Linked DNA regions of Homo sapiens: all the other regions are linked to region 4. Evidence: fine-mapped expression QTL. A gene starts in region 4. Each other region holds a variant in brackets. All regions are shown on one strand. Distances are between the middles of the regions. Region 1 has its middle 210 kb from the start of PREX1. Region 2 overlaps PREX1 (phosphatidylinositol-3,4,5-trisphosphate dependent Rac exchange factor 1). Region 3 overlaps PREX1 (phosphatidylinositol-3,4,5-trisphosphate dependent Rac exchange factor 1). Region 4 holds the start of PREX1 (phosphatidylinositol-3,4,5-trisphosphate dependent Rac exchange factor 1). Region 5 overlaps PREX1 (phosphatidylinositol-3,4,5-trisphosphate dependent Rac exchange factor 1).

Region 1 (6,275 bases), 210 kb after region 4:
CTGCGGTGGGTGGCTTGGGGGGTGGGTGCGGCCGGGGGCACTAGGGGATGAGCTCGCGCTTTAAAAGCCTCATGGAGGACAGTGCTGATCTCTGCATCGGGGCCTTGAACCAGCGACCCCGAAGTCAGTGATGTTTTCACTCTGTGCCTCAGTTTCCTCCTTGATAATGGGGCGATGCAGCTTCTCTCGCGGGGTGATTGCTGAGGACGACCCGAGGTTGCACGGATTGCCTGCAACCCAGGTATACAGGAAAATAACAGGCCTTATTTGATATTTCAGCTTTTTTCCCCCCTGGATTCTGAGCTCCCATTTCACTGTGAAGGTAGGAAAAAGTGACTGTTTTCCCAGGAATTCCACACCTCCTCCTGGGTGGCTTACTTGTGCTGAGGGGACAGTGTGGATCCAAGGGGTGCCATAGAATCCTCCTCGCTCCAACCTGCAAGGCCTGTTGGATCCAGGCGGGAGTGGAGTTCAAAATACCCACAACATGGTCGTGCCGGACCCCCAGTCAGCCAGAACTTACGCTGGCCACAAACAGGCCTATTGGGCAGACGTGAAATGCACCAATGAGAATAGAGAGTCTGCGTGCACACCTGGGCCTGGTGGCTGCATCCTAGGCTGTCAGCAGGTTCTCCACCTGCCTGGGCCCAGGTGATCTTTATGAAGCTGCCTGGGTTTGTTTGCATAGTCAGAGAAACCTCATTCCCTGGGCTGCAGACCTGTTCTGCTGTGCCAGCCCTGTGCCCCCTCGTCCTTTTTTTTTTTTTTTGAGACAGGGTCTTTTGCTCTTATCACCCAGGGTAGAGTGCAGTGGCGCGATCATGACTCACTTAAGCTTCGACCTCCTGGGCTCAATTTATCCTCCCACCTCAGCATCCCAAGTAACTGCAACTACAGGCACGTGCCACCACGCCTGGCTAATTTGTTAAATTTTTTGTGGAGACCAGGTTTCAGTATGCTGCCTACCAAGTAGCCTGGACTACAGGCACACACCACCATGCCTGGCTAATTTTTAAAAATTTTTATAGAGACCGGGTTTCGGTATGTTGCGTATGGCCTCTTCTTTATTCCATCTTTTCCCGATTTCCAATCCTTTGGAAAATGCTGAAATCGATGACAGTTTCCTCTGGGTCATGGCCACCCTTGGGACTCCCCTGTACCATGGTGCTGCACCCAGCCCTGCCATTTCACACTCGAGCCCCTTCTCTTTCAGTCTCTTTTCCTTCCAAACTAACCTGTTGCAGATTACATTCTCTGAAGGCCCAGATTGGATCCCTCCCAGAGAGAGATCCTCGCGTCTCTCAGTTACAGGTTTCAAAGGACTCAATACTCTAACAGGCAAGAGGGAATCCTGGTGGGGTTTCAGGCACAGTCATGGATTGATTATTTAGAATTATCTGAGGCCAGTGTTTGGATCCAGGGAAAATCACTTCGAGGGAAGACCTGTTACCTCAATCTATATTTGAGGTCAACAGGGAGGATTGGACGTCTTCCTTCAGGCAGACACGTTTCTAGAAAGCATCGATTTCAGCCTCTCCTCCACCCTGGGGGCCCGCAGAAGGAACATACATTCTCCTGGGGCCGTAGGCAGGAGCAGCTTGGGTTTCCAGCCGGCTCTCTGTGGCCTTGAGCAAGTTGCATACTTTACAGGCTCAGAGCTGTGCTTGCAGAGTTGGGAGGGAGAGCCGGGCCCACCTCCCTCTCCGAGATGTGTTTCTCCAAGTATAAAACTAAGCACGAAGGGCCTCTCAGAGCAAGCGGACATTTTTGCAGGAGACAAGAGGTCTCAAACTGATGGCTCCAGGCTGAAACTTGGAACTAAATGTGGGTTTTTTTTTTTACTTCCTTCCTGATATGGTGTTTTAAAAAAATGAATTATATTTATGAACCAGCAAATTTCATCTCTGAATTCTGATTTTTAGTTTGTCTCGAAAATCAGAAGCTCTGAGCTGGGTGTGGTGGTGCGCACCTGTGGTCCCAGCTACTTGGAGGCAAAGGTGGGAGGATTGCTTGAGACCAGGAGTTCAAGGCTGTCGTGCGCTTTGATCACACCTGTGAATAGCCAACTGCACTCCAGCCTGGGCAACGTAGTGTGGTCCTGCCTCTTAAAAAAAAGATTAAAGAAAAAATCAGAAGCTCTGGTCACACTGGTCCACATTCCCACCTGGCTACATGTCAGCTGGAGCTGAGGAGCGGCTGTCTTCTTGAGGAGGGTGCCAGCTCTCCAGCTCCCCGGAGCCACGTGGTCCGAGCACTCATCCGGCCTGCTCACGCTGACGGCCAGATCCTTAGCTCTGGACTTGCCATGGCGATGTCAGCTCGGGGAGGACCTGGTGACCCGGAGTCACTGTGCCGTCCAATGGAGAATCAAGGGGCAGGCGCAGCCCCGCATTGACGTCTCTCGGAGCCTCTCCTTCTCTGCTCCTCCAGGATGAGGGCAGGGCCCAGGTGGTTGAATTCCTCTGAGCCTCAGTTTTTTCATCTGTCAAAAGGTGCTGACCCAGAGATGGCCCCTTGGCGTGGACTGCAACAGAGGCCACCCAGGAAGTGGAAGGTACGATGGGGTGTGTTGACCGCTTTATGATTTTATCTAAATAACTGTTGGTGTACTTCCTGTCCACCTTCCCCCCAGCAGTAAGAGCAGGAACCACACCCCTTCCATACTGTAGCCCAGGGCCAGACAGTGGTGAATCACGGCTAAATATTAATAGAAGAAAGCAGGGTTAGCACAGTGATCAGAGCGGGGGG[C/T]GCAAGCCACACCCATCTGTGGCCAAGCGGGCCCCTCTAACCTCTGTGTCTGCCACGTGGGTTCATTCATGGGGGGCTGGACTAGGACCTTTGAAGTCAGACACCCTCGCCTGCTCCTGAATCTGTCAACACCTGATACTTGCTGAGTGGCCATATCTGAGATTCTCTGTCTTTCTGGGACCCTCAGCTTCCTTCTTTGAGAAATGGAGACTTTACGCCCACCTGGCTGCCTTGCGGGGGTACCAGGAGTCTCCTCCAGGGCCCCAAAGTGGAACTTCCCGGGATAAGTGTAGTGCCCTGTCTGTCCAGCAGGTGGTGCTGGGGACCGCGTAGTGCCCAGAGGCTGCTGTTCCCCGGGCTCCAGCACTCAGACCGAAGGCTGGCTCCTGGGTGCAGGTATTTGGGACAGAGCCAGCCTGGAGGCGGGGCCTGGAATCGTCTGGACAATGGGCACTGGCGCTATCCCTCTCCTGGGCTGGGCTTGCCGTGAATATTTTCTCTTTTTTTCTCTCTTTTTAAAAACTTTTTAAAATTTGTCTCTTTCTTACTTTCGTCCCCCTCATTTTCTTTCTCTCTCTCTAAGCTTTTCTATATTTGTCTTTGTCCCATAACATATGTCTGTGAGCTTGACTCGATTTTTCAATTCTTTCCTTTCGGGGATCTTTCCCTTCTCTCTTTTCTCTTTTTTCCCTTCCTCTCTTCTGATTGGAGGAGAAGGATATGAAAGGCCCTTATGCACTGTAAAGCGGGGTGCTTACGAAGCTTGTGACCAGAAACCCACAGTCACTGGTGCACCTTTGTGGAAGTGACGGCCACTAGATGGCGCTGTGGGCCAGGGCGCCCCGCCTAGCCTTGCGGGCCTCCTGCCCAGAGCTCCTGGGAGGCTCCCACTGCAAGCCTGGAGCTCGGGGTTTGCAGGCAGGGGAGGCCGAAAGCCAAGCCTGAAGCTGCCTCCCTCCGGGCACTGGTAGCGTTCCCTGGAGGGCTGGAGTGGGGCAGGGGTGGTTAGGAGAGGGATGCTAAGGAAATGCCTCCGCTGCCAGCGCCTTCACCAGCTGCACCTCCCATTATTGCAGCCAAAGTTTGCTCACAAGGACAGTGGCTGGATTTGAGCCCAGGCCGTGTGGCTCCAGACCCTGAGCCCGGGGCTCTGTCTGGGGTGTGGCCCAGGGGCAGGTCCTTGGGTGCGTGAGGGTGGCTTGGCTCAGCTCCTCTCCCTGGGTCACTGCAGCGGCCCTGTGCTGTTCTGTTTTCCCATCCCGAAGTCCTGAGGGTCTCAGCAGAGGGGCCCAGGATTCAAGTCCATCCACTCCCAGGGCGGGTCCCTAGCCAGCCTCTGCCCAGCATGTGGGGTGGGTGCTTCCCTGTCCTCCTGCTTCCTGCAATGTTTCCCTTCCAGCACTTTCCAGGCTCCAGTTCCCCATGCTGGGCTGCCCGAGCACCCCCACCCTGCAGCTGGCCCTGCTGCCCTGGCTTCCACCTCCAGATCCTTCTTGCCATGTCCGCTCCAATCAGAGCCAACCCACCCTGTGCCCCTCCCAGTGGCTCTGCTGCCTGCTGGACACATGTCACCGCCACGGGGCTGATGGGTAACGGGAGATGCTCTCAGGTCCTGATTTGTGCTTCGCCAGAGCCCTCCTAGAGCTGTAGGTGATGATGGGCACTTTCCAGACACTGGCAGGGCTGAGATGAGCTGCTCCAGGGACAGGAGGTTCAGAGATGAAGAGCTGGAGGAGGGCCAGCCCTGCAGGGCACACAGACTTGCATTGCTGGCTTTTGGCCCAAACAGCTCTTTGAAAAACAGCACAGGAATGGCCCCGGTGGGTGGTATCTGTTTTCATGGTGCGTGGCTGACACTGGAAGACGATGGACCCGTGGCTGCTGGGTATCAGGGGAGGGGAGGGGGCCTGGGTGTGGGATGCAGGGCTGCCCTCCTTCCCTCACATCCCCTGCTGTCAGGAAGAGGGCAGGGGGTCCTGGGGCACTGAGGCTGGGGAGACATGAGGGCTGTCACATCTGTGTCCTATCCAAGCCAGATCCATGTCCTGTTTGCAGAGTCTTGGCCATAAAGAGGGACTGGGAACACTCTGCCTCACCCTCACCCTCGCACCCTCCTCTGATCCATCTGGGTCTGTCTGGATGGCAGAGGCTCAGAAGGTCTGACCCTACCCGATGGTGGAGGCTCAGAATGTCTGAGCCAGAAAGGACGTCGACGAAAGTCTAGAGCCAGGTGCCCTGACTCACGCCTGTCATCCCAGCACTTTGGGAGGCTGAGGCTGGAGGATTGCTTGAGCGCAGGAGTTTGAGACCAGCCTGGGTAACATAGTGAGACCCTGTCTCTATTAAAAATAAAGAAAAAAAATTAGCTTGGGGTGGTGGTGCAAGCCTGTGGTCCCAGGCTGAGGTGGGAGGATCACCCGAGCCTAGGGAGGTCGAGGCTGCAGTGAGCCATGATCAAACCACTGCTCCGCTCCAGCCTGGGTGATGGAGTGAGAGACTGACTCCAAAAAGAAAAGGAAAGACTCGCCTTCCTCCTCCTGATTAACAGGTGAGGCAGATCCCCGTGCCCCATAGGGACTGCAGGGACACTGATGCTTGGTGCTGATTGAACCCCTACTGTGTGTCGCAGGCTGTGCACATCACCTCACTGAATCCTCACGAGAGCCCTAGGGGGGCACCATGGTTGTCGCTGTCCTCCCACTGTGGAGCTGAAGGAGCTGAAGGGGGAAGGCGCTCCCCGAGGGGCACGCAGTCAAGGAGCCTCTGAGCCGGGATTTGTCCTGTCCCAGGTCCTGGGTCCCCACCCGCAGCCCCACTCGCTGCTGGCAGAAGCAGGTCACCAAGGAAAGACCCAGGGGGCTTCCCTCTTGGGGCTTCCAGTGTATTAAAAGTGAAGGAATGCCAAGAAAGGGCTATAGAAACCACGGGCTGGCTGAAATGTTGAAGGAACAAACGAACTCTTTATCGTGGTGCTGTTCAGGAAATAAGAACTACATTGACTTTGTAAAAGTACGTTCATCCCAGGTGCATCTGGGCGTGAGGACGGGAAGGAGGGGGCTGTAAAGATGGGGATTAGGGCTCGTGGGTCAGTGCCTGAGCTTTGTGGCCGGACTCCCTGGGTCCGGATTCCTGGGTTTGGATTCCTGGGCAAGTCACTTGACTCGTCTGTGTCTCGGTTTCCCCATCTGCAGCATGGGCTCCCAACCGCATGTTCCCGGTGTCGGGGTTGGAGGGGCAGGCAAAGCCTTTGATCAGCGCCAGGCTGTGGGTGACTGCCCCAAGGGGGCTACTGGGTCCTCACAGTCCTCGTTTCTCTGAGACTCTAGACGCAGCCTCATTTGAAGGTGACTCCCACATTTAGGAATCCAGGCCTTCTGGGAAAGTGAGGCCCAGGGCCCATGTTAGACTCAGGCCCTGGGGACCAATTGCATCCATTCAGTTTGCAGAGAGGTGTGTTCGCCTGCGTCTCCACCTCCGTGCTCCAGGGAGATCCGCCATGGAGGCTGCTCCCAGAGTAACTGGGGATT
Region 2 (6,275 bases), 66 kb after region 4:
TGAAATCAAGGTGCCAGCAGGGCTGTGCTCCTGGGGGGTCTGGGGAGAATCCGTTTCCTTGCCTTTTCCAGCTTCCAGAGGCCCCTGCATTCCTTGGCTTGTGGCCTCGTCCATCTCCCAGCCAGCAGCATAGCGTCTTCTGGTCTTCCTCTGACCCCTGGCACTCACTCTCCTACCTCCCTCTTTTTCTTTCTTTCTTTCTTTTTTTTTTTTTTTTGAGAAAGAGTCTTGCTCTGTCTCCCAGGTTGGAGTGTAGTGGCGCTATCTTGGCTCACTGCAACCACTGCTTCCCGTGTTCAAGCAATTCTCACGCCTCAGCCTTCCAAGAGCTGGGACCACAGGTGTGCACCACCACATCTGGCTAATTTTTTAATTTTTACTAGAGATTGGGTTTTGGTATGTTGGCCAGGCTGGTCTCAAAATCCTGACCTCAAGTGATCCACCCACCTCGGCCTCCCAAAGTGCTGGGATTATAGGCTTCAGCCATCGTGCCTAGCCCCTCTTTTCCTTTTAAGGATCCTTGTGATTATGTTGGGCCCACCTCAATGCTATTGATAATCCCCCCCTTTCCAAGATCCTTACCTTAATCACATCTGCAGAGTCCCTTTTGCCATGGAAGGTGGTGTATTCACAGGTTCCGTGGATTAGTATGTGGACGTCTTTGAGGGATTATTGTTCAGCCCACCACAATGGTCAAGGGCTGTTGGGGCCTCTCTGAGAGTCCTCTGATGTCTGCAAGCTCTGGGTCCTTTCTGTCCTGCAAGTTCTCCCTCCTTTCACGTTGGATCAGAAGGCCTGGCACTGTATTGGGCTCCAGGGACAGAAGTTTCTTCCCTTGTGGAGCTTGGGGGTCACAACTTTAATGATGTGGCCCCATCACTAGTGGGAAGTGAGTGGCTGGTCAGGGAAGCTGAGATCGCAAGAGAGGGTTAGAGTGGATGTGGCAGAAAGTCAGAGCCTGGACTCTGATGGCCCCGAGGTCAGAGGCCAGCTTTGTCTGCTTAGCTGCATGCTCTGAGGCTGCCGCGTCAGCCACTGAGAACCTCGGTCTCCTTTTTCGTAAAATGGAGATGAGATTGTCTAGGATGAGGCAATCGTGGGAAGCATTGGGTACATAGTTGACACTCCCTAAACTGAAGACCCCAAGCTGCAGCCAAGCAGCCAGTGTCTGTACTCCTAAGACTGGCCCTTCTGCTGCCAGAATTCCCTCCCTGGGGCCGAGCAGGCTCTGGGAAAAATCAATGGGAGGAAACCTCCATGGCTGCACCTCCCTCACTGAGGCCTGGGCCCTGAATGCCACTATTTTTACATTCTCTCACTTTTGTGCATTGTTTCCTGACTCTACAAATACAATCCTTCACCAGCTAAGGGGGGACTGCTCGCCCTCCAGCCCCAGGAACAATTGTTTGGGAAGATGGAAAAAAAATAGTTGGACTGAGGAAAAAACAAAACCTCTTGAAAGTCATTGTCTTCAGATGTCAAGTGTCAGCCCCACAGAGAGGAGACCGCATTCCACTCATTGTCCTGCTGCAGACAGGCACAAGGACCCCAGGATGTCCAGCCACCCCGCCCTGCATCCTGGGGCCCCGAGTGACTTGGTTCTCTTTGTCCAGGACATTCCGGCGGGAAATGCCACCCAAAGCAGGGCCTGTTCCCAGCCACCACTGTCTCCGTCACTTGAGGCTTTTCCTTCCAGCCACACGCCCATGCAGGCCCCAGATGGGCGAGGGCTGGTGCTGACGATAAGGGCTACAGTTCGTACAGTGCTTCCTAGTGCATTTTATCCTAACCCATCAAATTCTCCCCATGCCCCCGTGATGCAGGTATCTATTTCTTTTTTCTTCTTTTGGTGTAATAGTGTGAGATATAATTCACGTACCACCATACAGTTTACCCATTTGAAGTGTACAGGTGAATGGTTTTCGGTATATTCATAGAGTTGTACCACCATCTAATTTTAGGACCATTTCATCACTTCAGAAAGAAACTTCATATTGGCTGGGCATGATGGCTTACGCCTGTAATCCCAGAACTTTGGGAGGCCAAGGCAGGTGCATCACCTGAGGTCCGTAGTTTGAGACCAGCATGGCCAACATAGTGAAACCCTGTCTCTACTAAAAATACAAACATTAGCCAGGTGTGGAGGCATGCACCTGTAATCCCAGCTACTTGGGAGGTTGAGGCAGAAGAATCGCTTGAACCCAGAAGGCGGAGGTTGCAGTGAGCTGAGATGGTGCCACTGCACTCCAGCCTGGGTGACAGAGCGAGACTTTGTCTCAAAAAAAAAAAAAAAAAAAGAAACTTCATACCATTAGCAGTCAGGTACCATTTTTATATCCCCATTTCATAGAGAGGGAAGCTGAGACACAGAGAGGCTGTTTAGGGTCACACAGCCAGCAAATGACCGAACCAGGATTTGAACCCAAAATACTTGGCTCTGTCTAGAGGCCATTTTCTTAGCTTTGCTATAATGCAATGGTTCTTAACCAAGGATGATTTTGCCTCCAGGGGACATGGGCAATGTCTGGACACATTTTTGATTGTCACAACTGAGGAGAGGAGGGTTGTTATTTGTATCTAGAGGGTAGAGGGCAGGGAAGCTGCTGAGTGTCTTATAATACTCAGGACATCCCTCACAGCAAAGAACTATCCACTGAACTGTCAAGGTACCAAAGTTGAGAATCTCTGCTAGAATCCCACTCTGATGAGCCCATTTTTCAGGAAAAAAATCAACAACTGAGGAGCCCAAAGGAGTAGGGAGAAGCTGGGTTGTGAATGGGAAGGATTTTAGACCATTTCTGACAACAGTGAAGGGAGATAAATTCTGAACGGCTTGGAGAAGACTTAGCAGGAAAAAGATCTGCATTCCATTAGTGATGTCTGCCCTGGGTGAGGGTAAAGGCGAAGTAGCAGGTTCAGGTTTGCCTTGCCTGTGTCTAGGACAGAAGTCTCACACTCAGGTGTTCACAGGGCGCAGCAGTGGGTTGGGTGGTGGGAAATTGAGGAGCACTTGTCCTGGGTGAAGGTGATGGCTATCACTCTGCTCTACAGCACCTGCAGCCTTGTGGGCATTTGAGACCCATGTGTCAGTTTTTTCAAAAGAAGCTTGGAATTTGGATTTTAATGGGAAACCTGATATTCAAACTTAGGCCCAAGTTTCTCAAACCCCTCTGCAGGCCAAAGGAATGATGCCTCTGAGTTACCAGTTTGAGACCCATAAGGTAGCCCCATCATGTAGAGGAGGCTCTGCATAAATATCTGTTGAAGGAAGGATGGGTTGTTGGTGAACTCAGGAAAGTTTGTAGGCCAGGCCCCAGCCCCTTGATGGGGGCTGCGTGAAGAAAAGCATTGGGTTCCTCTCAGTGTCCCCCACTGCCTTCCCCCACTGTTGCATC[A/G]GACCTCTTCATGACAGGTTGTTGCAACTTGTTTTTTGCATCAACTTCCTCTCCCGATGTGGTGGGGAACGGGGCGGGGTGGGGTGAGAACTGGGCACCTTTTACCAGGGCCTAGAATCTGGGTGGGGGTGGGAGTAGTCTACTCTAGATGATTGATTGACTAATTAATTAAACACATCCTTTTCGAGGGTCTGCTGTGTGCTGGGTCCAATCCTAGGCTCTGGGACACCACAGTGACCTAGACAGACAAACATCCTTGCCTTCCTGGAGGTGAGACTCAAGTGGGCTAGATGGATAATAGACTGATATAAACACACATAATGTCCATGGTGACAGGTGCTGTGAGGAAAACAGAGCAGGGATAGACGTTTTCGATAGGATTGTCCTGGAAAGACTGAATGTGCCTCGGGGCCTTTGCCCCGGCTGTTGACCCTGCCCATGATGCTGTGTCCTCCGATACACGCAATGCTGTTTGCTCCCTGTGTCTGCTCAAATGCCATCTTCTCAGAACGGCTTTCTCTGAACAGCTCCTTGAAATGGCATTCCCACCTTATCCTTCTCTGTTTTCTTACCCTGCTTTAGTTTTCTTTGTAGCAATCATTCCTACCTGCCATTTTATTTTAAAATCAGTGTATAGTCTGTCTCTGCCACTACTTTGTGAAGGTGGGGAGTTAGTCTGATTTGTTCATTCACTGATGTGTCATTGGCTCTTAGCGCAGTGCCTGGCACATAATAGGTGTGCAGTAAGTATTTGCTGACTACACAGGCGAATGTAAGAATGCATAAGTCCTTCCGTGGCAGGGTCATGGCTTATATCTGTGTCTCCAGCACCCAGCTCGGTGCCTGGTGCACGGCAGGCCCTGGTTAACACTTGCTGGGATGGTTGGTACTCGGAGAGGACTTGTCCCCCTAGAATATCATCACAAGCAACTTCCTGCCCCTTTCCTAGTCCAGCCTCCCTCTCCTGGCTCAGCCTTTCTGCCACTTTTTCCAGGAAGTGTTTGTAGTTACAAAGTGTTCACCTGCATCATTTCACTTAAACCTCAACAACTACTCCTCCCCCCCTTTTTGTTTGGTCCAGGAAATTGACTCAGAAGTGTGGTGACTTGCTGAAGTCACGTGGTTGGCAGTCAGCAAGGAGGATGGGGCAGGGCAGAGGGGTGCGCTGGTGGTGATGAGGATGTGGGGGGCTCTGCAGTTTATAAAGCCTTCCCCTTCTCATCTCACCTCAGGAGACTCGGAAGCAGGCAGTCTATAATAATAGAGCTATTTGCAGGATGGAAAAAACTAATAAAAATAAGTAAAAATAGTGTGGGATAAATGTGAGTGTGCTTGGTGCATGTAGAAGCCCTACAGATGTGGTTGATCCAAATCCAGGTTTCCTTAGGAAGCACAGTGGGTTCTGTCTACCTGCACCAGGGCTTGGACTCCCTGCAGACACTCTAGAAACTCAAGATGGGGAGATCATAATAGCCAATGCTTTTTTTTTTTTGAGGCAGGGTCTTGCTTTGTCATCCAGGCTGAAGTGCAGTGGTGCGATCTTGGCTCACTGCAACCTCTGCCTCCTAGGCTGAAGTGATGCTCTCACCTCAGCCTCTCGAGTAGCTGGGACTACAGGTGTGCGCCACCACACCTGGCTATTTTGTTTGTTTGTTTGTATTTTTGGTAGAGATGAGGTTTTGCCGTATTGATTGATTGCTCGAACTCCTGGGTTCAAGCAATCAGCCTGCCTCGGCCTCCCACAGTGTTAGGATTACAGGTGTGAGCTCACAGGTGTGAGCCTGGCCAATAATAGCTAATGTTTTTTGAGCACCTGCTATGCACCAGGGACCATTCAAGTGCTTGTTATGTGTGTTAGCTTCTGTAATTCTCATTGTAATCCTGTGTACTCATTTTATCCCCCGTTATAGAGGAGGAAATGGAGGCAGAGAGAATAAATAATTTACTTCAGGTCTTAGAGCTTGTAAGCAGCAGAGCTGGGATTTGAGCCCATTTAAATGCTTTGCCTGTAGTATTTCTTTTTTTCTTTCTTTTCTTTTTTTTTTTTTTTTTTTGAGATGGAATCTTGCTCTGTTACCCAGGCTGGAGTGCAGTGGTGCGATTTCAGTTCATTGTAACCTCTGCTTCCCAGGTTCAAATGATTCTCCTGTCTTAGCCTCGCAAGTAGCTGGGATTACAGATGTGAGCCACCATGGCTGGCTAATTTTTGTATTTTTTGTAGAGACAGGGTTTCACTATGTTGGTCAGGCTGGTCGCGAACTCCTGACCTCAGGTGATCCACCCATCTCAGCCTCCCAAAGTGCTGGTATTATAGGCGTGAGCTACCGCGCCTGGCCTGCCTGCAGTATTTCATATCAGCCTCACAATAGCCCATGAAGTCAGTAGTTTTATGGTCCCCATCCATGTTATAGATGAGGCCCAGAGAGATGGAGTCAGTTGCCTAGGTCACAGAGCAGTAGGTGGCAGGGGCAGGATTTGAACCAGGTGGCTAGTTCTAGCCTTTGAGCCTCATCCACTCTTACATACTGCTTGCTTAGGAGATACAGTGCCCTTCTAGCAAGGAGTAGAGAGAGTTTCTAAGGGTAGGGAGGGCTTCTGAGAGTTGGGGCATGGGAGGAGGAGGTGGAATGCTGGCCATATCTTTGGCCTCCGCAGGGGAATGTGTATGGGTTCCCCGCAGATGCAGCCTGGATTCAGGTGGGCTAGATGGATAATAGACTGATAATGAACACACATAATGTCCATGGTGACAGGTGCTGTGAGGAAAACAGAGCAGGGATAGGCGTTTTCGATAGGATTGTCTTGGAAAGACTGAATGTGCCTTGGGGCCTTTGCCCCAGCTGTTGACCCTGCCCGTGATGCTGTATCCTCAGATACACG
Region 3 (6,275 bases), 200 kb after region 4:
CTTGCTTCTGAAAGCAGGGGTTCTCAGAGCGTGGCCCCTGGACCAGCAGCACCTGGGGGCTTGATAGAAAGGCATATTCTCCGGCCCAGCCAGAACTACGGCCTCAGAAACTCTGGAGGTGGAGTCCAGAGGCCTGTATGCTGAAAGCCCTCCAGGGGCTTCTGAGGCATGTGGGTTTAATTAGGAACCAGGCACTGGATTAGTGTTTCTCAGTTTTTTCATTTCATTAGATTTTATTTAATTTCATAAAAAACCTTTTTAGTCAATTTTTCCTAATTGCTGCACCCCCATGAAATTATACTACTACGGGTATACCCTGTGTCTGTTTATCTGTGCATCTGTGCTTATTATACATTAAAAGAGGAAAGTGTTTTCATTCTCCTTCCCACGAGCCAGTTTTCACCTCCTTGGGGACAGTGTCTCTCCTGCTGAAAATGCATGGACTAGAGTCTAGATGAAGGGCAGGTTCTCTTTGAGTAGCAATTGGAATTGATAGGCAGCAGCAGCTGCCTGTCTCCAGGCTGAGATTGGCTCGGGCAGAGCTTTGATCGATGAGTGATGTCTGCCATGGGTGCAGGATGGGGTCTGGGTGCCATATTTTGCACCCCCTGCCCTAAGCGCTTCCTTCTGGCTATGAATCAGATGTATACCCTGTTTGAGGGCAGCTTTTCCCAGGCAGGGGCCATGGGCTACCGGGTGAGGGTACAAGGAGCGCTGGGGAAGCTCTGACCCCAAATGCTGTGGACCCCCTAAGTAGGCAGAGTCCGCATCAGGTTCAAGAATTAAGCAGCGGAACTAGGAGCTGATGAAGCAGGCGAAAGGGAGGTGTCAGCTGCAGTTCTTCGGAGAGTGAGAGGGAAGGGCTGCTGGAGGCTGTCCCTAGAGGGCAGGAGGGCAGGGAGGTCTGAGGCTACCCCTGTAGAGTCGGGAGAACAGGGAGGTCCCAGGGTGCCCCCCTGGACCTGGGGGCAGGGAGGTGCCAGCTGTTCTGGAGAGGTGTGCCAGGGCTTCCCCTGGCCTTGGCCTCGGTGGTGAGTCATCCTGCCCCATATCCTTCCGCAGACACCAACGTCTTCTACCACATTGAGGGCAGCCGGCAGGCGCTGAAGGTCATCTTCTACCTCGACAGCTACCACTTCTCCAAGCTGCCCTCCCGCCTGGAGGGTGGGGCCAGCCTGAGGCTGCACACAGCGCTGTTCACGAAAGGTGAGCTTCAGGCCTGGGGCAGGGAGGACCACGGGGGCCGGGCCAAGGCCACCAAGCACACCGGCTCCCAACCGCCTGCCCGCCCCCGACATCTCCCCTCCCAGTGCTGGAGAACGTGGAGGGGCTGCCTTCTCCAGGCAGCCAGGCCGCGGAGGATTTGCAGCAGGACATCAACGCGCAGTCCCTGGAGAAAGTTCAGCAGTATTACCGCAAACTCAGGTATCCGCCTGGGGTCCCCGTTGGGGGCAGGAGTCAGGAAACCTCCACGTGGAGTGGGCATTAGCATGGAAGGTGCCAGGCGGACCCCCAGCATGGGCAGTGGGCCGCACACCCTTTCTTGAGCACCTTCTGTGTGACAGCACTCTTGCCTGCGTGAGATTCTCAATGGCAGCAGGCCATGGATCCCACTTTACAGAGGAGGCGACTGAGGCCCAGAAAGTGTACACACTTGCCCAAGGTCACACAGCCAGGCAGTGGCTGAGCTTTGAACTGGGGTCTGTTTGGTTTCAAAGTGGGTCTTTCCTACTGAGAGGAGCCGGCTTCATTCTACAGAGGGTGGGAGCTAGGACAGGGGACCTTGGGACTCTTGGGCCTGTGAGTGAGGGGTGCGGCTCCCAGGGTCTTGGCTGCTCAGAAGAGAACCCCAGGGGAGGAGGGGTGAGAGCAGGAGCCAGGTATCACCAGGAGGAACCACAGGTTCTGGGAGGCAGCTTCTAAGTTCTGCAGCTCCCACTCCTACCACCCTCCCCCACAGCCCTTCCTGCGTGTGTCTCACCACCTCCCTCTGTGACAGAGGCAGGCCGAGAATTAAGACCCCAGGGAGATGAGTACGGGTCTGGGCTTCATCATTTGGAAATGAGAGAATGAGGCTTCATTCGTTTGCTCAGAGAAAGCATCCAGCCCAGTTACTGAAAACTGGCATCTGTTTGGATTGATCAGGGCTGTCATCAGTCTGTTCTGCGCCATCTGTGGAATACTCTGAGTCCTGCCTGTGTGATGATTCATTCATCCCTTCATTCACACATGTTGAGGCCTTCTGCGGGCCGGGCACTGTTCCGGGTGCTTGTTTGGGAATGTGCAGTGAGCAAAACAAAGTCCTGTTCTTCATGGAGCATATATTCTAGAGCAGGGGTTGTCAAAATCTGGCCCTCCTTGTCTCCCTGTTTTGTAAATAAAGTTTTATTAGCACACCTGCATTCACTCATTTTCACATCCTCTGTGGCTGCTTTTGTGCTGCAATGGCAGAGCTGAGTGGCCGCGATCGAGACTTTCCAGTGCACAAAGCATAAAATGTTTACCGTTGGGCTCTTCACAGAAGAAGTTCGCTGACCCCTGTTCTGGAGGGGGAGACGAACAGTAAACCAGTAAGCCCAGAGCCATGAGATGCCAAGTGGTGAGAAGTGCTCAGAAGAGAGAAAAAGCAGGACCAGGGCCTGGGGAGCAGAGGGCTGGGGGCTGCTGTGGACGGGCAGGCAGGGAGGGGTGGCATTGGAGGAGTGCTCAGGAGGCCCCTCTTTCCCCCCCGGCTGTTGTAGGAACAGGTGCCTGCGGGTGAGCACAGCCTGCAGGCGCTCTCAGGGATTTCATTCTGAGAGTCGGCAGAGGGCGGAGTCACGGTGGCTGCAGGAGTTGAGACC[T/C]GGGTAGGGGCAGGAGGATGGTGGGTGTGGTGGCCCCCGCCTCATTCCCATCTTTCTCTCGCAGGGCATTTTACCTGGAGCGGTCTAACCTGCCCACGGATGCCAGCACCACGGCGGTAAAGATAGACCAGGTATGTCCACGTGCCCTCCTGCTGCAGGGAGCTTGGGCAGGGTGGGGCGCTCAGGAGTCAGGACTCAGCAGACAGGCCCAGGGTTGTGCCCCAGCAGATTCTAGCCCCAAAGCCCTTGAGACCCTGCAGTCTCTCCTCCTCCAGGAAGTCTCCCATGATAGCTTCCTCCCCATTCCCAACTTCCTGGGATGATTTATTTTCGCTGGCAGCCGCCCATCTCTGCCACTCCAATCCGCCTTATTAACCACAGCATTTCTCTGAGGCTGGAGCCTGGACCTCATGACAGATGTAACCTGTATGGTATTCTTTTTGTTTATGTGTTTCAAATTTGCTGTCAACCTTTAGAAATCAAAAGATTTCCCATAAAAACAGAGGCTTCCAGCTTTTCTGGAGGAATGGGAAGATCTGGCTGTTGGGGACCATGTTGCCACATGTCCCCGTTGCTCCGAGCTGGGAGCAGCTCCCTCTGAGGGGCCTCGATAGTTCGGCTCCTTGGGCTCCTTGCCTCTGACCCTCAACACATGTCTTTTGGCCTCCTGGTTTTCTAGGGTCAGGCAGGCCTTGAATGTGCTGATGATTTTGGGGTGCTGTCTTGGGGCTGTGAGCTGGGGGCTCCGGGAGGAGGGTGGGCACAGCCGTTTGGGACTTTCCACTCTGGCTGGCAGAATGTCCCCGCAGCACAGCTCGTTAGTGAACCACCCCTTGCACCTCCACGTGGGGGTCAGGGAATGCTGGGGGCAGAAGGGAAGGCTTTTTCTGGAGAGGGGGCGCTTGTGTTGGTCTTGACAGGCTGGGAGAGGGCACTTTCTTCAGGCTTCACTGGGGACACACCTGGGCAGGTGAAGAGAATTAGGTTGGAAGGTTAGACCTGAAATATATGGTCAACACTGACTGCCAGCTTGTAGGGCAGTGGGGAGCCACAGAGGGTTCTTGAGCAGAGGTTATAGAAGATTGAATTGCATTGTTATCCCCAGAGGGGTGAGCTGGGAGGCAGCTGCAGGAACAGCTGGATTAGAAGGATATGGTGGGGGAGGAGGGCCAGATGGGGGCTGAGGGGCTGTGAGGACCTCCTCCAACTCCCCGGTTATGTGTGGTACCCCCTACAGCTGATCCGCCCCATCAATGCCCTGGATGAGCTCTGCCGCCTCATGAAGTCCTTTGTCCACCCAAAGCCTGGTGCTGCTGGGAGTGTGGGCGCCGGCCTCATCCCCATCTCCTCGGAGCTCTGCTACCGCCTGGGGGCCTGCCAGATGGTCATGTGTGGCACAGGCATGCAGAGGTGAGCTGCTGCCCGCTGAGTCGGGGTGTGGGGAGGGGCTGGCCTAGCTTCTGGTCAGTTTGGGGTCCTGTGGCAAGGAGGCAGGAAGGCTGGGTTCCAATCCTGGTTCTGCCATTGCCTGTAGAGCCTTGGCTCTGTCTGCACCTCAGTTTGTCTGTCTGTGAAACGGAATGGCAGCAGCAGGTGGTCCTAGCAGGGCTGTGGAGCCACCTGCTTCTCTAACGCCGTAGTGAGTGTGTGTGAGAGCTGTGCCCTGTAGTTCCGCCGGAAGCCTCCTTCAACATTAACAATAGCAATGGCTGGTTTATGGGGCCTGCTGACCTCACTGGAGGCTCCCCTGCCTCCTACCTCCATCCTTTGTCCCCAGTGCTCATCCCAGGGAGGAAGAGGTCACCTTCTCCAGAGTGCTTCCTGACCTTCCGTTACAAACTGTGCCCACTCTCCCCACTCAGTGCCCTCCCAACCCTCTCTTCCTCTGCAGCCCTCACCCCCACTCCCCAGACAGCCTTCATTGGGGTATTTATTTCCTCCTTGGCTCCCTCAGGGCAGGGCTGGATCTGGGAGGGCAGGGGCCCCTTTTGTTCTCTGCTGTTCCCCAGAGGCTAGAGCAGTGCCTGGCCTGAGACAGGTGCTCAAGAAACATTTGCTGAATAAATGTTTCACGGGGCCAGTGCTCTCTGCCTCCTAGGTCATTGACGTTCCATGCAGATTAACTCCTTTCCGTCTTTCTCTACCAGTGCAGTAGTGGGGCCTATTTTAGGGGATCTCACCTAGGGGCAGTTTTATCCCCGGGGAACATTTGGCAATGTCTGGACACATTTTTGGTTGTCACAACTTAGGGGAGGGAGGAGCTCCTGGCCTTTAGTGGGTAGAGGCCGGGATGCTGCTCAGCTTCCTGTGGTTCCCAGGACAGCCCCTCCAGCTGGGCCAGGTCCTCTGTGCACCACCATGCTCCCTGTTTCATAGTTAATAGTATAGGGAGGCTGAGGTTAACTCAGCTACCCAGGGTCACAGAGGAGTTACATGGAGGGACAGGATTGGAATCCTAGAGGTCTTGCTGCAGAATCCACGTTCTAGAACTGTTGAGAAACCCAGAGAGGTGTGAATCGATGTGTCCATCTCAAACCCCACGGAGCCGACAAGTCGTGAGGCTCCCAGGGAGTCCCCCACTCACTCAGCAGATATTTACCGAGTCCTCCTCTGAGCGAGGCACTGGGAATGTCACAGGGAACTCAACAGGGCTTCTGCAGACGGGGAAGCACCAGAGTGCCTGCCAGTGAGGGTGGTGGCTGCCTGGAGGAAGAGGAGCAAGCGGGGAGGGACGGCAGGAGGAGGCGTTGCCGTGATGGTCAGGATTGGGTCTGGGAGGCCTCGGAGGGACAGGAAGTTGCCCCAGCTCTCACCCACTGTCCTCTGACTCCCGCTGTCCTCCCCCGACCCCTGTCCCCCCACCGCCAACCCGCTGTCCTCCCTCCCCTGCTGCAGGAGCACCCTGAGCGTGTCCCTGGAGCAGGCGGCCATCTTGGCACGGAGCCACGGGTTGCTGCCCAAGTGCATCATGCAGGCCACGGACATCATGCGGAAGCAGGTGAGGCCGCTTGGCCACAGGGTCCTCCAGCACCCTGGGCTGAGGGCGTGGCATGCTTGCAGCCAGGGTGGGATGAGGGGCTGGTAGCCACCAGCCCCAGACCTGAGCCTTCTCTGAATCTGGAGGGGAGCAAGGATCTTAGCTTCTGGGTCCTTGGGCTTCTGGGCCCCACCCCCACCCCCCAGTGTGCTTCCTCACGTGCCCTGAACCTGCAGAGGCCCCTGCCTGATGGTTCCTTCTTCCAGGGCCCAAGGGTGGAGATTCTGGCCAAAAACCTGCGAGTCAAGGACCAGATGCCCCAGGGTGCTCCGCGGTGAGTGGCTGCCTCGTCCGCCCCTTCCTGTCCACTCCCAGCTGGCGACCCAGGCCTGGCTTTGGCATCATGCTCCTGGCCTAACCCCTAATGCTCAGATGGGGCTTCCCCTCTCATTTAT
Region 4 (6,275 bases):
CCTCCATGTATGCACTCAGGAACCTTGCAACGACTTTATGATGTAGGTACTGATATTATTCTTAGTTCACAGATGAGGAAAGCAAGGCACAGAGAGCTTAAGTATGTTACTAAACGCTGTATTATCTTTTAGTGTCATCATTACCACTGGGGATGGGGATGGAAGGGGAAAAAGATCCCAGCAGAATCTGAGGAAGTAACGATGTATAAAACATTGGGGTGGGCCAGAGATGGGACCCATCCACAACGTGGAAATGTTTTTTGGCAGTGTGGGCCAATTCTTGGGTGAAATGTGGGATTTGTGTGTAAACTTGAGGCTAACCTTCCTTGGTCATGGGCTGAGAAGGGAACTAACATTTGTTGAGCACCTACTCTGTGCCAGCTATGTGTGTCAGGTACTTTACATCAGTGGTTCTCAACAGGGGGCAATTCTGTCCCCAGGGATATCTGGCAATGTCTGGAGACACTTTTTCTGTTTATTTTTGAGGCAAGGCTTACTCTGTTGTCCAGGTTGGAGTGCAGTGGTGTGATCACAGCTTACTTGCAGCCCTGACCTCCTGGGCTCAAGCAAGCTCCCCACCTCAGCCCAGCAGCTGGTACTACAGGTGTGTGCCACCATGCCCAGCTAATTTTTAAAATTTTTTTGTAGAGACAGGGTCTTGCTATGTTGCCCAGGCTGGTCTTGAACTTCTGGGATCAAACAATCCTCCCACTTGGACCTCCTAAAATTCTGGGATTAGAGGCCGGAGCCACTGTGCCCAGCCTGGAGACATTTTTGATTCTCAGATTGGGGAGGGAGTGCTACTGGCATCTAGTGGGTAGGGGACGCGGCTAAATGTCCTGAAATGCACAGGACACGCCCCTCCCCCAACAAAGAGTTATGTGACTCCAAATGTCAATAGTCCCAAGGTTGAGAAAGTCTGTATTGCATAGAATTCGCTCTCACAAAGACTCCCCTTTTACAGATTAGACGACTGAGGCCCAGAGAAATAACGTGTCTTGGCCAAGGTTACCCTGCCAGTTGGATTTGGACTGGGATACAAATGCAAGCCCGCTTCATTCCATGGTCCATTATGTTCCAGCCATGTTCTCCCCTCGTGGTAGACAGAATTAATTTAAAGATGAGGAAACGGAGGCTCAGAAAGGTACCGTGAACAGTTTAAAGTCACAAAGCAGAGATACTCCAGAGGCCTTTATTAGGAATAAAAATATAAATAAAAAACCAGCTACCTTTGGACACAATTGACTCCACTACCCAAGCGTGACAGGCTCACCTATCTCATGTCCTTTACTCCCTGCCCAGGGGAACTTCACTCAGCCCAAGGCCCAGATCAAATGCTACCTTGCCCATGATCCCAAAGAAAGAAGTCAGAGAGGGCAGAAGCCACCCCATTCTCTCCCTGTGTCCTTAGGCACTTACAGTATTGAGAGGCCAATGGGAGGAAAATCCTAGGCTTTTGGAACAGGAATAAATAAGCAATGTTTCTGTCCATAAAATGACTACAGTCTAGAGGCGGATACTATGTGGATCACTTTATCCCCTGCAGAGACGATACAATCTCTGGTCCGGAAACACGGGTGATTAGGGATTGTATGGGCCATTTGAGAGTGGGGCCAGGCTTAGAGGGCCGTTCACACATGCAATAATAGTAAGAACAAACATTTACAGAGAACTTTCTAGGTGTTGGGCTTCACACATGCAATAATAGTAAGAACAAACATTTACAGAGAACTTTCTAGGTGCTAAGTACTTCCCATGGAACCCCGGGGAGGACCTTGGAGCTAGGTACCATGATCGTTCCCGTTATACTGATGAAAACACTGAGGATCTTGAAGCAAGGAAACCAGCCCAAGGCCACCCGGCCAGCAAGTGGGGAGCTAGGATTTGAACCTGAGCAGCTGACTCTAGGCCCCAGAACTTCCTCCCCTCTCCATACCTTCCGATAAGGCGGGTGATGATCAACATTGCCCAGAGCAACCTGACAAGAAGCTGGGTTTCCCAAGGCCTTATCCCATGGGGTGGGTGGATGGAAGGGGGAGCAGGCAGGGTACCTGCCACTTGATCAATAACTCAAGAGCAGGTAATAATTTCTTCTGGGAAAGGTGGAAAGGGCAGGGTCAGGGGGCAAAGAAGTTCAGAAAGAAAAGGAAGGAAGGAAAGAGAGAGATGGGAAAGGAAACGGGAAAGAGAAAAGTGAGAGCGAGCGCGCGCCACGCATGTTCCTTCCCAAGGTCGTGGTAGCACCGAGGGCACCGCGAGGGCCCGGCGTTCCCGGGAGGGGCCGTCACTGCCCAGAGAGGGGCCGTCACTGCCCAGGCAGCGGTCGCCCCTGACTTCCCGGGGCCGCGGAGGCGCGCGTGGCGGGGCTGGCTTGCCCCCGAGCGGCTCCGCAGCGAGCTTTCCCAGCCCGGTGTTTACTTGGCCCGAGCAGCGGCCGGACCTGCAAGCAGGAGCCTGCGCGCGGCGGGTGTCGCGTGTGCCGGGTGGGAGTGGCGTAGCCCGCGGTGACTGCGGGTTGGGGGGGCGCCACGCGTCCGGGCGCGGAGTTGGTACGCTCGGTTCGGCGTGCGCGCGGCCTCGGACTCCCGGCTCCGCGGGGCCCTTCCGGAGGCTCCCGCCCGACCCCCGAGCTTCCGACGGAGGCGCCGAGCGCCGCGCCGCGTCCCCAGGGGCCCCGTGCACGCGCAGAGCGCCTCTGCGGCCGAGCGCGGCGTGGCACTTGGCAGACGGTCCCTGGCGCGGGGGCGGGGGGCCAGCCGTCTGGGAGCCCCGAGGGCCGCCCCCTCCCGCCCCTCGCCCGGCCCCCGCGCGCTGCCTCCGCCCCCGGCCCAGCCGCCCGGCCCCCAGTCCCGCCCGCCGCGCCGGGAGCCCGGCCCGCCGCTGAGCCCGGCCCGCCGGCGCGCCCCGTCCGGGATGGGGCGCCTGGACGCCTGAGTTGCCGCTCGGCGCGACGGAAGGAGCCGGCGCCGCGCGGCCGCGCTAGAATGGAGGCGCCCAGCGGCAGCGAGCCCGGCGGCGACGGGGCCGGGGACTGCGCCCACCCGGACCCCCGGGCCCCTGGCGCCGCGGCGCCCAGCTCCGGCCCCGGCCCGTGCGCGGCCGCCCGGGAGTCCGAGCGCCAGCTGCGCCTCCGCCTCTGCGTCCTCAACGAGATCTTGGGCACCGAGAGGGACTACGTGGGCACCTTGCGCTTCTTGCAGTCGGTGAGTGTCGCTCGGGAGCTTGGGGACAGCTTTCCCTCCAGCCGCTCGCCCCGCTGCGGTCCCCACAACCTGTGGCCGTGGTCCCCGTGGGTGGAGAATTGCCTCGGGGGCGCCCCGCAGGGCGCGCGGAAAGCGGGGGGGATCCGAGCTCCTCCAGAGCTGTCGCGTCGCCTCCCTCCCTGGCCGGCGCACGGTCCTGCTCCGACCGGGGCTCTCCCGCACTCCACTTCCCCGCGGCGCGCGCTGCCCTTTTGTCTTTTCTTCCCCGTCCCCGCCTTTCAAATAGTTTTAAAATTAGTTACATCCGCGATGCAGGGGCTTGGGGACCCCGGCGGCGCCGGGAGCTGGCGCTCCTGCGTCTTTTTCCCAGGAATAACTACGCGCCCGGTGCACCACTCATCTAGGACATACCGTAGGAGCCCCAGAGCCCAACGTCCCTGCGCGTTGATGGAGTAGGATAAAACCTGAAGCTCAGAGGAGGGGCGGGGATTGACAGAACCCCAGGGTAGAATCCCCCATGCACAGGTTTTTGCTGGAGTTCGGGGAGAGTGGGTTTCGAACTCAAAACTCGGCAGTCCAGGCTCCCTAACTGCATCCACCCCCACCAACTCCCCATCTCCAAGTGCAAAACCACGGCCTCAGACTTTGTAAAATAACAACCGACCACTTACTATGTGCCAGACACCTTACATGTGTCATTAATTAGCAGGTTTAACCTTCACAGGCGGTCTATGAAGTAGGGACGAGTATTTCCCCCATTTTTAATTAAAAAAATTTTTTTTTGAGACGGAGTCTCCCTCAGTCACCCAGGCTGGAGTACAGTGGCGCAATCTCGGTTCACTGCAACCTCCGCCTCCCGGGTTCAAGCAATTCTCTTGCCTCAGCCTCCCGAGTAGCTGGGATTACAGGCACGCGCCAGCCACCACGGCCGACTAATTTTTGTATTTTTATCAGAGAGGGGATTTCACCATGTTGGCCATGCTGGTCTTGGACTCCTGGCCTCAAGTGATCCGCCGACCTCGGCCTCCAAAGTGCAGGGATTACAGGCGTGAGCTACTGGGTCCTGCCTCCTCCGTTTTTAAGATTGGGAAAGTTTAGCTCCAGAGGGGCCGGGTAGCTTGTCTGGGATCGCACAGCTGATTAAGTGGGGGTACTGGGCTTTGAACCGGGACTATCCCAGCTGGTGTTCTAAACCCCTATTCTATGCTGCATTTTTCTTTTGCTTTTTTTCTGTGAGAGGGAGGAAGGGGCCACTTCCCTACTCTCCTAGGAAGTGAGAAAAGTGGCCAGCGGGTGGAGGGGGTGGGACGGGGCAGAGCCTTGGATGGAAGTTAGGAGACTCTAAAGTCTTTAATCTCCATGCCTCCTGCTGGGGCCTCATTTACTCCCCTTCTCTGCTCTAGGAAGTCTTTTAATCCTGGTTCAGGAAGGGCTGGTGTGGGGGTGGCTCTTTCAAAGACCCTAGAGCCAGGCTTTGTAGCTCCTAGTCTTTGGGAGAAAGAGGGAGACTCTGGGGTCCTCTGGGGCTCCTCATGGCTTAGGGGTGCAGCTGAGGCTGTGTGAGATCAGAGTTCCAGCTCAGGGAGGAGACAGCCTTAGACTAGAGCCCTTCTGCCTGTGAAAGGAGATGTACTGGGGGCAGGGGGATGTGGGAGAGGGGGTTGTGCAGAAGCATTGAAAACCATTTGGCTAAAGGACCCTTCTAGGAAGGCCTGTAAGAATAAGGCAGGATTGGCTTTCTTTCCCATCCCTTCTTCTCTCACAGTTTCGGGGGTGGGGGGTGGGGGAAGAATTTGTTCTGTTAGAAGCTGGCAGTTTTTGAATTAAACATGTAGACAACCCTGGTGTCTCTGAGCAATGTCAAATTCTAGGGAACTCCTGACTTCTCCTTCTGAGCCACTCCATGCTCCTCTGCTTGGAAGAGAAACAGGAAATACAAACCAATTTTGATATTAATGGGAAAGAAAATATACCTCTCCCTCCCACGCCCCTGCCCTAGATGGTGTGTTTCATTTTAGAACAGATCTAGATTGTGTTTGAGTTAACTGTGGTTTTAAATCGTCCACGTGTAGAGTAGGAGGAAGCTGGAATAATGGAAATTGATTGGAGCCAACCATTCTTATTATTCAAGAAACAGGAAAAAAAAAGATTTCTCTACTTTCACATTATCTCCTTAACACTTTACATTTGCTGACTTCATCACATTTTTCTTTTTGTATCTGATGTGTCAGTTCTGAGATGAATTGGTTCTGACTTGGACATGTGTCTTGGACCAATCATGCTACGTGTCCTGACCTCAGTTTCCCCACCTGTGAAACAAGGAGCGGGGAATCCGGGCTTCCTTTCTGCCTGGGCCTTTTGTGTGTCCCCAAGCTGGTGCCAGAAACAGACGGATTGTGTAACCTGACCAGCCATACGTTGTTTGTGAGCCACAGGAGTCCTCTCTCATCTTGGCCCGTCAGGAATGGCCCCTAAACATCCCAAGGCATTTTCGTTTTCAAAACTAACCTGGGGCTTAGAGCTTCAGGAACTGCTAATTACCAAGGCTTTCCATGGTTGCAAGGCTGGCAGCCTCAGGTTGTGATTCTCTTCTGTCTTCCCACTCTCTCTTCTCAGCCTTTATATTTGCTAAGGGATTTTCCCTGCTGTCTCCTGGCTTGGAAGAATGCACGGTAATCCCTCCCTGCTTTTATTTCCATGTGGTTAGAGGCAGGCCTTAAAGGACCACCCTGGTCTCCGTGTGTCCTTGGTGTGAAGGTCCCATCGGCCCATGGAAACCGTGGAAAGTAACCCCCGTGATAGGGGCCATGTGTGGCTTCTGTCCTCAAGGAGAGGACGGTGTAGTGGAGGATGGCCAAATGGGTGTTTAAAAAAAACAATCCAAGTGCAAGGCTCTGGAGCCAGACTGCTTGAGGTTAAATCCTTGGACTTGTGACCTTGGGCAAACACCTTAACCTGTTTGAGCCTTATTTGTAAAAAGAGGGATGTTAATAGGTCCTATTTTATAGGTTTTTAAAGAAGATAAGTGAGTTATAGAAATTGATGTAAAGCACTTAGAACAGTGTCTGGCAG
Region 5 (6,275 bases), 93 kb after region 4:
TGTGCATGTATCAAAACTGTCTTTGCTGTACGTGACAGAAACACCAGTTCAGATAGGCTTAAACAAATACAGGACTTTACTGATGCATGTCAGTGAAATTGTTCAGGAGTGTAGGTTGGCTTCAGGCATAGCTAGATCCAGGACTCCGTATGATGATTTCAGGACCAGGTCTTTCTCTGATCTCAGGCTCTGCTTTTATCTGTGCAGTGCTGATTTCACTCTTGGAGAATGGGAGGGGCTTATGGGGTGCATGCCTCACATGGTGGCAGGGGTTCAACAGCAGCTCAAAGAGAGTTTCTCTTCCCAGTGATTCCAGCTCGAGTCCTTGCGGGCTCTTGCGGCCCAGCTTGGGTCACATGGCCACTGTTATTAGGACGGGGAACTCTGATTGGTTTTGTCTGGGTCATGTGCTCACTTATGGTCCCTGGGGTGGGGTGGGACCAGCCTGGGAAGAAGCACAGAGCTGGTCTGAGGGCCCTTTAGCCTCTCCGTTCCTCCTTCTCTTTTCTTCCTTTCATTCATCAAATAGTCACAATACCTGCTCTCTGCCAGTGGCCGCTGACCCCATTGACATCACAGCAGTGACCTCAACAGATGAAAACGCCGTCCCGATGGAGCTGACAGTCCCAGGAGATTCAGGGGAGAAGGACAGTGCATGAATGAGACGTAAAACATCCTGGGGTCAGGGACCATCATAATTCCCAAAATCTGCCTGGGACCCTCCCGATGCTTTCCCTAAACCCACGAGTCTATCTGCTGCCTTCCTCCTGACTCTGCCTGTCTTTTTTTTTTTTTTTTTTTTTTTTTTTTTGCTGTCAAAACCTTCCCACCTACTGCCCTACCCTGTTCAATAAAAAAGGTAATGAAGTTTCTGAAATAATCATGCTGGTGATAATAGCAACAACATTATTAAGCAATAATAATACTAGTTAATATTTAGTGAACACTTACTATGCACCATTGGAAGTCCCTTAATATAAATTCACCTGCCAATCCTCACAACACCATTATGGTAATGATATTGTTGTCTGTACTTTATGGATGAGAATGCAGAGGCCAAGAAATGTTACTTGTCTTGACCAAGAGCTGGTGACCGGGAGACTTGGGCTATGAACCTAGATGGTCTGGCTGCAGAACTTCTCCTTGGCACTTACAGGGTTGATGCTGATAGTGGTTGGTGAGAGTGGTCATGGTGGCTTTTTATGTCACTGCAAGTCTTCTCTGCAGGAGCAGGTTTCCAGACAGGCCAGTTCCTGTCACCTACAACAAAATAGTTGTACTCTTTCTTCCTCTTCCTCTTCCCTGCAGCCTGCATCACCACAGTCTGCAGCTGAAATCCTGGTTCCAGGTGTGTCCAGCAGCCCCCACTCACAAGGTTTTACCTACGGCTGAGTGATCCCCTGCAGCTCAGACATCTACTCACCCAGCTCTTTTGGCCTTGATGGTCCCTTAGGCCCATTTGAGACAAGTGGGAATAGAAAAAGGTCTGCCTGGGCAGTGTTGGGGGTGCTGGGGTCCCCTCTTCTCCTTCCTTGCCATGTGTTGGCATCTCAGTGGACTGCAGATACTTGATGAGTGAGTGGTGGTTTGTGACTCAGTGCATGTGTCCATGTGCATGCTGACATTGGTGGTGGTGTTTGGAGCATGTAGTTTGCATGCTGTAATGCTTGAGATCATTGTGTGGTTTCTTGGAATATGCATCAAGATTGTGTGTCTTGTGGTATGTGTGTGTGTATGGGGGTGCACTGTGGGTAATTGTAACATGGTTTGTCTGATATTTTCCCCCATTGATCCATGTTTGTCGATTGTGTTTATGTTTGTTGTTAATACTTGTAGAGTACTTTGAAGTATTGTGTGGTATTGAAGTATTGTGAAGTATTGTGTGCCAGACACCGTTCTACTCATTTCACATATATTAAGTTATTTCATCCTCCAGCATCCTAAGTGTTGAAGGTCAGTTATGATGTCCATTTTGCAGGTGAGGAAACCAAGGCCTAGGGAGGAGAAGCACTTGCCCAAGGTCACCCTCTACTTAGGGAATGTGGAACTGGGTTTCTGGAGTCACTCTGTGCCCTTCAGTATTCTGGTGTAGTGCCCTTGGGATGCAGCTTAGTCTAGATTTGTGGCTTGAAATTTGTACCCTGGGTATTTGCCTCCCACTCCCATCCCTACCCTATGCCATGACCTTGAGCTGACACTGTCACTGGGGTTAAGGGGGTTTGAGTCCTGGTTCTGCCACTGCACTAGCGGCGAGACCCTGGGGAAGCAACTTTTCCTTGGTTTTGTCATGGGTATGTGAGTCTGTTACAGTAGTTACCATGTAAGGCTGTCGTGGGGAATGAGTGAGTTCACCCCCATTCCAGGAGAGCAGCGTGCAGCCTGTACTACATGCTGGGCAGCCTGTACTACATGCTGGGCAGCCTGTACTATGTGCTGGGTATGTACTCTGTGTTAGCCATCAGCACTGACCTGGGCACTTTGTGGCTCAGGGTGTCTGCTCAGATGATGCACACAGAGCCCCCAGAGTGAGCTGGGGTGGGCTGGGGATGCCTGTTAATTCTAAACCCATCCTCCCTTCTCTTTGGTTTCCTATTTCCTGCAGCCTCCCATCGGAAGGCCATCTGGGGGCTTGTTTAGAAACAAGATGAG[C/G]TGCTTGCTTTGTGGACCCACCTCTTCCTTCCTTAGCTTGTTCGGGTCTCTTGCACACCCCCATCCCTAGCTCAGGATTGAGGCCTTGCAACCCTTCCTCCTCCAGTGACCTCACCCACGCCATCCTTGTTTAGGGTTTGGCGGGTTCTGTGAACCATCTGGAACCAAGAATGCTCAGTTGAGAGCTTCCTGCTAAGAAGGCTCCTGTCTCTTCCAGTACGGGAAACCCTGACTGATGGTTCTGGACCTAGTGACCCACAGGTGACCTTTAGTCTGGAAGGAGTACATCTTTGGGCTCAGGGGCATCTGGAGGTCAACAGAGCTAGCCCCCAGCTATAACAACTCTGACTTAGGGACTTTTATTAACTCTACCTTACAGATAAGGAGACCGAGGCACAGGGAAGTCAGGTAACCTGCCCAGGTTCACAGGAAATACAGAGCCGTGGTGCAAGCCCAGGCTGCTCTTCTTGAGTCTATGCTCTTGACCCCCAGGCCACACTGCTTCCCAAAAAGTTATTCAGGCCCCTGAGTGCAGACCTGGGGCAAGAGTGGAGGCTGGGAAGCTGGTAGTGAGTGGAGCCGCTTTACCTGAGATACCTCCTGCTGTAGCTTCTCCTGGGTCAGGGTAGTCCTTACCCCTACCCTACCAGCCCAGTGGTCAGCATGTGTCAGGGCACCTGCCTGCTACCATGACCTGCCTCCCACAGGCTCTGTCCTTGTCTTGCAGAAGGACAAGTTCTGCGTGTACGAGGAGTATTGCAGCAACCATGAGAAAGCCCTGAGGCTGCTGGTGGAGCTGAACAAGATCCCTACCGTGCGCGCCTTCCTTTTGGTAAGTTGACCCGTCAGCCCTGGTGCTCCCTTGCACTCGGCCTCATCCTTGTGGAATCTGGGCACAAGAGGACTTCATGCTGCCCCATGGTGCCAAATCCTTTCCTTGGCTGGGGTAATCTCCTGCCTAAAGCAGGGATCGCCAAGCCTTTTCCATAAAGGGCCAGCTGGGGAATATTTTTGGCTCTGCGTACCATACAGTTTCTGTCACCACGACTCAGCTCATGCCATTGTAGCATGAAAGCAGCCCTAGAGAATGTGTAGAGGAGTGGGTGTGGCTGTGTGGCAATAAAACTTTATTTACAAAAACAGGCAGAGGGCCAGATTAGGGTTGACTTTGCCCATTCCTGGTCTAAAGTAAGGGTTCTATTAAAAATGGCAGCAAGAGTAGTAATTATTAATACTACTGTCATTATGATGGTTATTAGGATTACTAGTATTTTTAGGATTATTTAATTATAAATGAAAGAAAATCCAATTAAAACTGGCTTAAGCGGCCAGGTGCGGGGACTCACGCCTGTAATCCCAGCACTTGGGAGGCCGAGGCGGGTGGATCACTTGAGACCAGGAGTTCAAGACTAGCCTGGCCAACATGGTGAAACCCTGTCTCTACTAAAAATACAAAAAAATTAACTGGGCGTGGCGGCATGTGCCTCTAGTCCCAGCTGTTTGGGAGGCTGAAGCAGGAGAATTGCTTGAACCTGAGAGGCAGAGATTGCAGTGAGCTGAGATGGTACCACTGTACTCCAACCTGGGAGACAGAATGAGACTCGGCCTCAAAAAAAACAAAAAACAAAAAAACCCAAAAACTGGCAGAAGCAAAACAACAACAACAACAACAGCAACAACAACAACAGAGGGATTTACTTTTCTGGGGAGTTTAAGACCTGAGAGGGCTACAGAGATGGCAGAGTCTGGGTGTTCAAATGATGTCATCAGTAATGTATGTCTCTTGACTCTCCTTTTCTCTGCTGTGGCTTTATTCCCAGGCAGGCTCTCCCGAAGTGGTAACAGGGTGGCCTCCAGCAGCTCCAGACTTATACCTCTGATAGCTGAGCAGCTTCAGGATAGAGAGAACTTCCCTTTCCCCATAGTAACAGCAAAAATCCTAGGTCTGATGCTCGTTGGCTCAAAACCTTATCCCTGAACCAATTGCTGTAGACAGAGTAATTGGTGGTGGTGTTCTGATTGGTCACTTCTGGAGATGGAAGGTGGGGTCAGGTCTACCCATACAATAGAGCCTAAGGGTAGAGTGGATCCCTAAAGCAGTTGGTTTGCATTTCTGGGGATATTTGTGTTTGCATTTCTGGGTATATTTGCATTTGCATTTGGTCAGGAAAAACTGTAGACATCCATGATGGTCTTCCCTACACTTGTAGAGAGCCTCACTTATGTATAAAACGGATTGTCATTTGTGACCTCCTTTGAGCCTTTCAAACCACTATCTGTTGTGTATGAGTCAAGATAAACATTTGTCTGCTTTGCAGACATCTCAAAGGACAGTGGTTTGAACAAGGTGGGCTCTTATTTCTCCCTCTTGTTAACAGTGTGGGTGCAGACAGTCTGGGGCTGGTATAGTGGCTCCAGTGTCAGGGGCTAAGGCCCTAGGTTATGATGCTCATTGACCTGGTCTCAGATGACCTTTGACTACATCCTACTTCCAGGTGGTGGGGTGGAGGGAGGGCGGGAAGGAGAGCATACCCTTCTCCTTTTCAGGGCGTAACAGGAAGCTGCACACATCTCCTCCCCTCACGTCCCATCGGCCAGCACTCAGCCACATGGTCACCCCTAGATCCAAGGAAGGCTGGGAAATACAGGCTTTATTCTGAGCAGCCATGTGCCCAGCTAGAAATGTGATCACTGTGGAAGAAGAATACATTAGGGGACACTGCATAGCCTTTGTCACAGGTGATTTTGATGACTTCACAATATTAAGTGACTTTCTAGGGGTCCATCCTAGAAAAGTGGTTGAGCTTATCCTGGGTTTCAGTCCCAGTCTTTCACCTCTGAATCCCTTCTCATTCGGTCACAGACGTCTCTCCACCCCCATACTGTTTGTTTTCCCAACAGCACATACCGAATTCAGTATATAAAAGTAGAACAATTAACTAACATAGCATACGGAGTATGAACCACGTTCCCAGAGTGCTAAACTATAAAATAATATTCCTAATTGCACTTCTCCTTCACTCAGTCTCCAACAAAGTAGTTCCAGAATTTCGATTCCAAATGTGTGTTTCCTTCACAAGTGAGTTCATGTTGCTTGGCCCGGCTCCAGTGAACATCTGAGGAAGGGCAAATTGGCAGACTGATTTACTGATTTCCATCTTTGTCTCAAGTGAATTAAGCTTTCAGGACTGTTGCTTTTCATAGCCGGTACCTACATCTTCACATTTCCATGTTTGCACTTATATTCATAAAATAGTCTGGGCAGAATGCAAAGATGAAGTCACGTTACTGCAAGACCCCACATGGACAGAAATGGCCATGTCTGCATTGACCTGTTGGCTTGCAGGCAGCACCACCCTGTGACAGTCCCTGCTGCCCAGGCTCTGGGCTCCCTGGCTGAGGGTCCCACCCTCTGACAGTATTCCCTCAGGTTCAGCTAGGTCCTGGGAAGGAGGAAGATGCCAGGAAGGTGTGTGCAGGGTGTGGGAAGGGAAGGGAAGGACTGACTTCTTTCTTTCTTTCCTTCCTATCTCAAGCAGTCTTCCTGGTGGGTCAAACTGCCCTATTCCTAGCAGCAGCTGGGTGGGCCGGTCTGGGCAGGGGAGGATGCGTGGGGTGCCAGCACA

The links. PIP is the estimated chance that this variant, and not a neighbour inherited with it, causes the effect.
Region 1: its variant is fine-mapped to the expression of PREX1 in whole blood (INTERVAL, PIP above 0.99).
Region 2: its variant is fine-mapped to the expression of PREX1 in whole blood (TOPMed, PIP above 0.99).
Region 3: its variant is fine-mapped to the expression of PREX1 in whole blood (TOPMed, PIP above 0.99).
Region 5: its variant is fine-mapped to the expression of PREX1 in lung (TOPMed, PIP 0.99).

Annotation. Positions count from the first base shown.
Region 1 is chr20:48,617,953-48,624,227 of GRCh38, reverse strand. No RefSeq gene overlaps it. Among named protein-coding and RNA genes, the nearest start is that of PREX1, 210 kb to the left of the region's middle. RefSeq lists enhancers at 3,185-3,244, 4,067-4,775, 4,811-5,311 and a silencer at 3,545-3,674. The variant C/T (reference allele first, on the strand shown) is at 2,749.
Region 2 is chr20:48,758,724-48,764,998 of GRCh38, reverse strand. All of the region lies in intron 1 of PREX1 (phosphatidylinositol-3,4,5-trisphosphate dependent Rac exchange factor 1), which reads left to right. Among named protein-coding and RNA genes, the nearest start is that of PREX1, 66 kb to the left of the region's middle. RefSeq lists silencers at 1-113, 4,129-4,178 and enhancers at 1,327-2,102, 3,549-3,598, 5,979-6,275. The variant A/G (reference allele first, on the strand shown) is at 3,396.
Region 3 is chr20:48,627,427-48,633,701 of GRCh38, reverse strand. PREX1 (phosphatidylinositol-3,4,5-trisphosphate dependent Rac exchange factor 1) reads left to right here. Exons shown (of 40, transcript NM_020820.4): 34 at 1,063-1,206; 35 at 1,311-1,425; 36 at 2,908-2,974; 37 at 4,081-4,253; 38 at 5,739-5,841; 39 at 6,087-6,154. Among named protein-coding and RNA genes, the nearest start is that of PREX1, 200 kb to the left of the region's middle. The variant T/C (reference allele first, on the strand shown) is at 2,844.
Region 4 is chr20:48,824,570-48,830,844 of GRCh38, reverse strand. It overlaps PREX1 (phosphatidylinositol-3,4,5-trisphosphate dependent Rac exchange factor 1), which reads left to right and starts at 2,846. Exons shown (of 40, transcript NM_020820.4): 1 at 2,846-3,203. The coding sequence starts at 2,985. RefSeq lists silencers at 2,193-2,872, 3,283-3,352.
Region 5 is chr20:48,731,752-48,738,026 of GRCh38, reverse strand. It overlaps PREX1 (phosphatidylinositol-3,4,5-trisphosphate dependent Rac exchange factor 1), which reads left to right. Exons shown (of 40, transcript NM_020820.4): 4 at 3,377-3,481. Among named protein-coding and RNA genes, the nearest start is that of PREX1, 93 kb to the left of the region's middle. The variant C/G (reference allele first, on the strand shown) is at 2,650.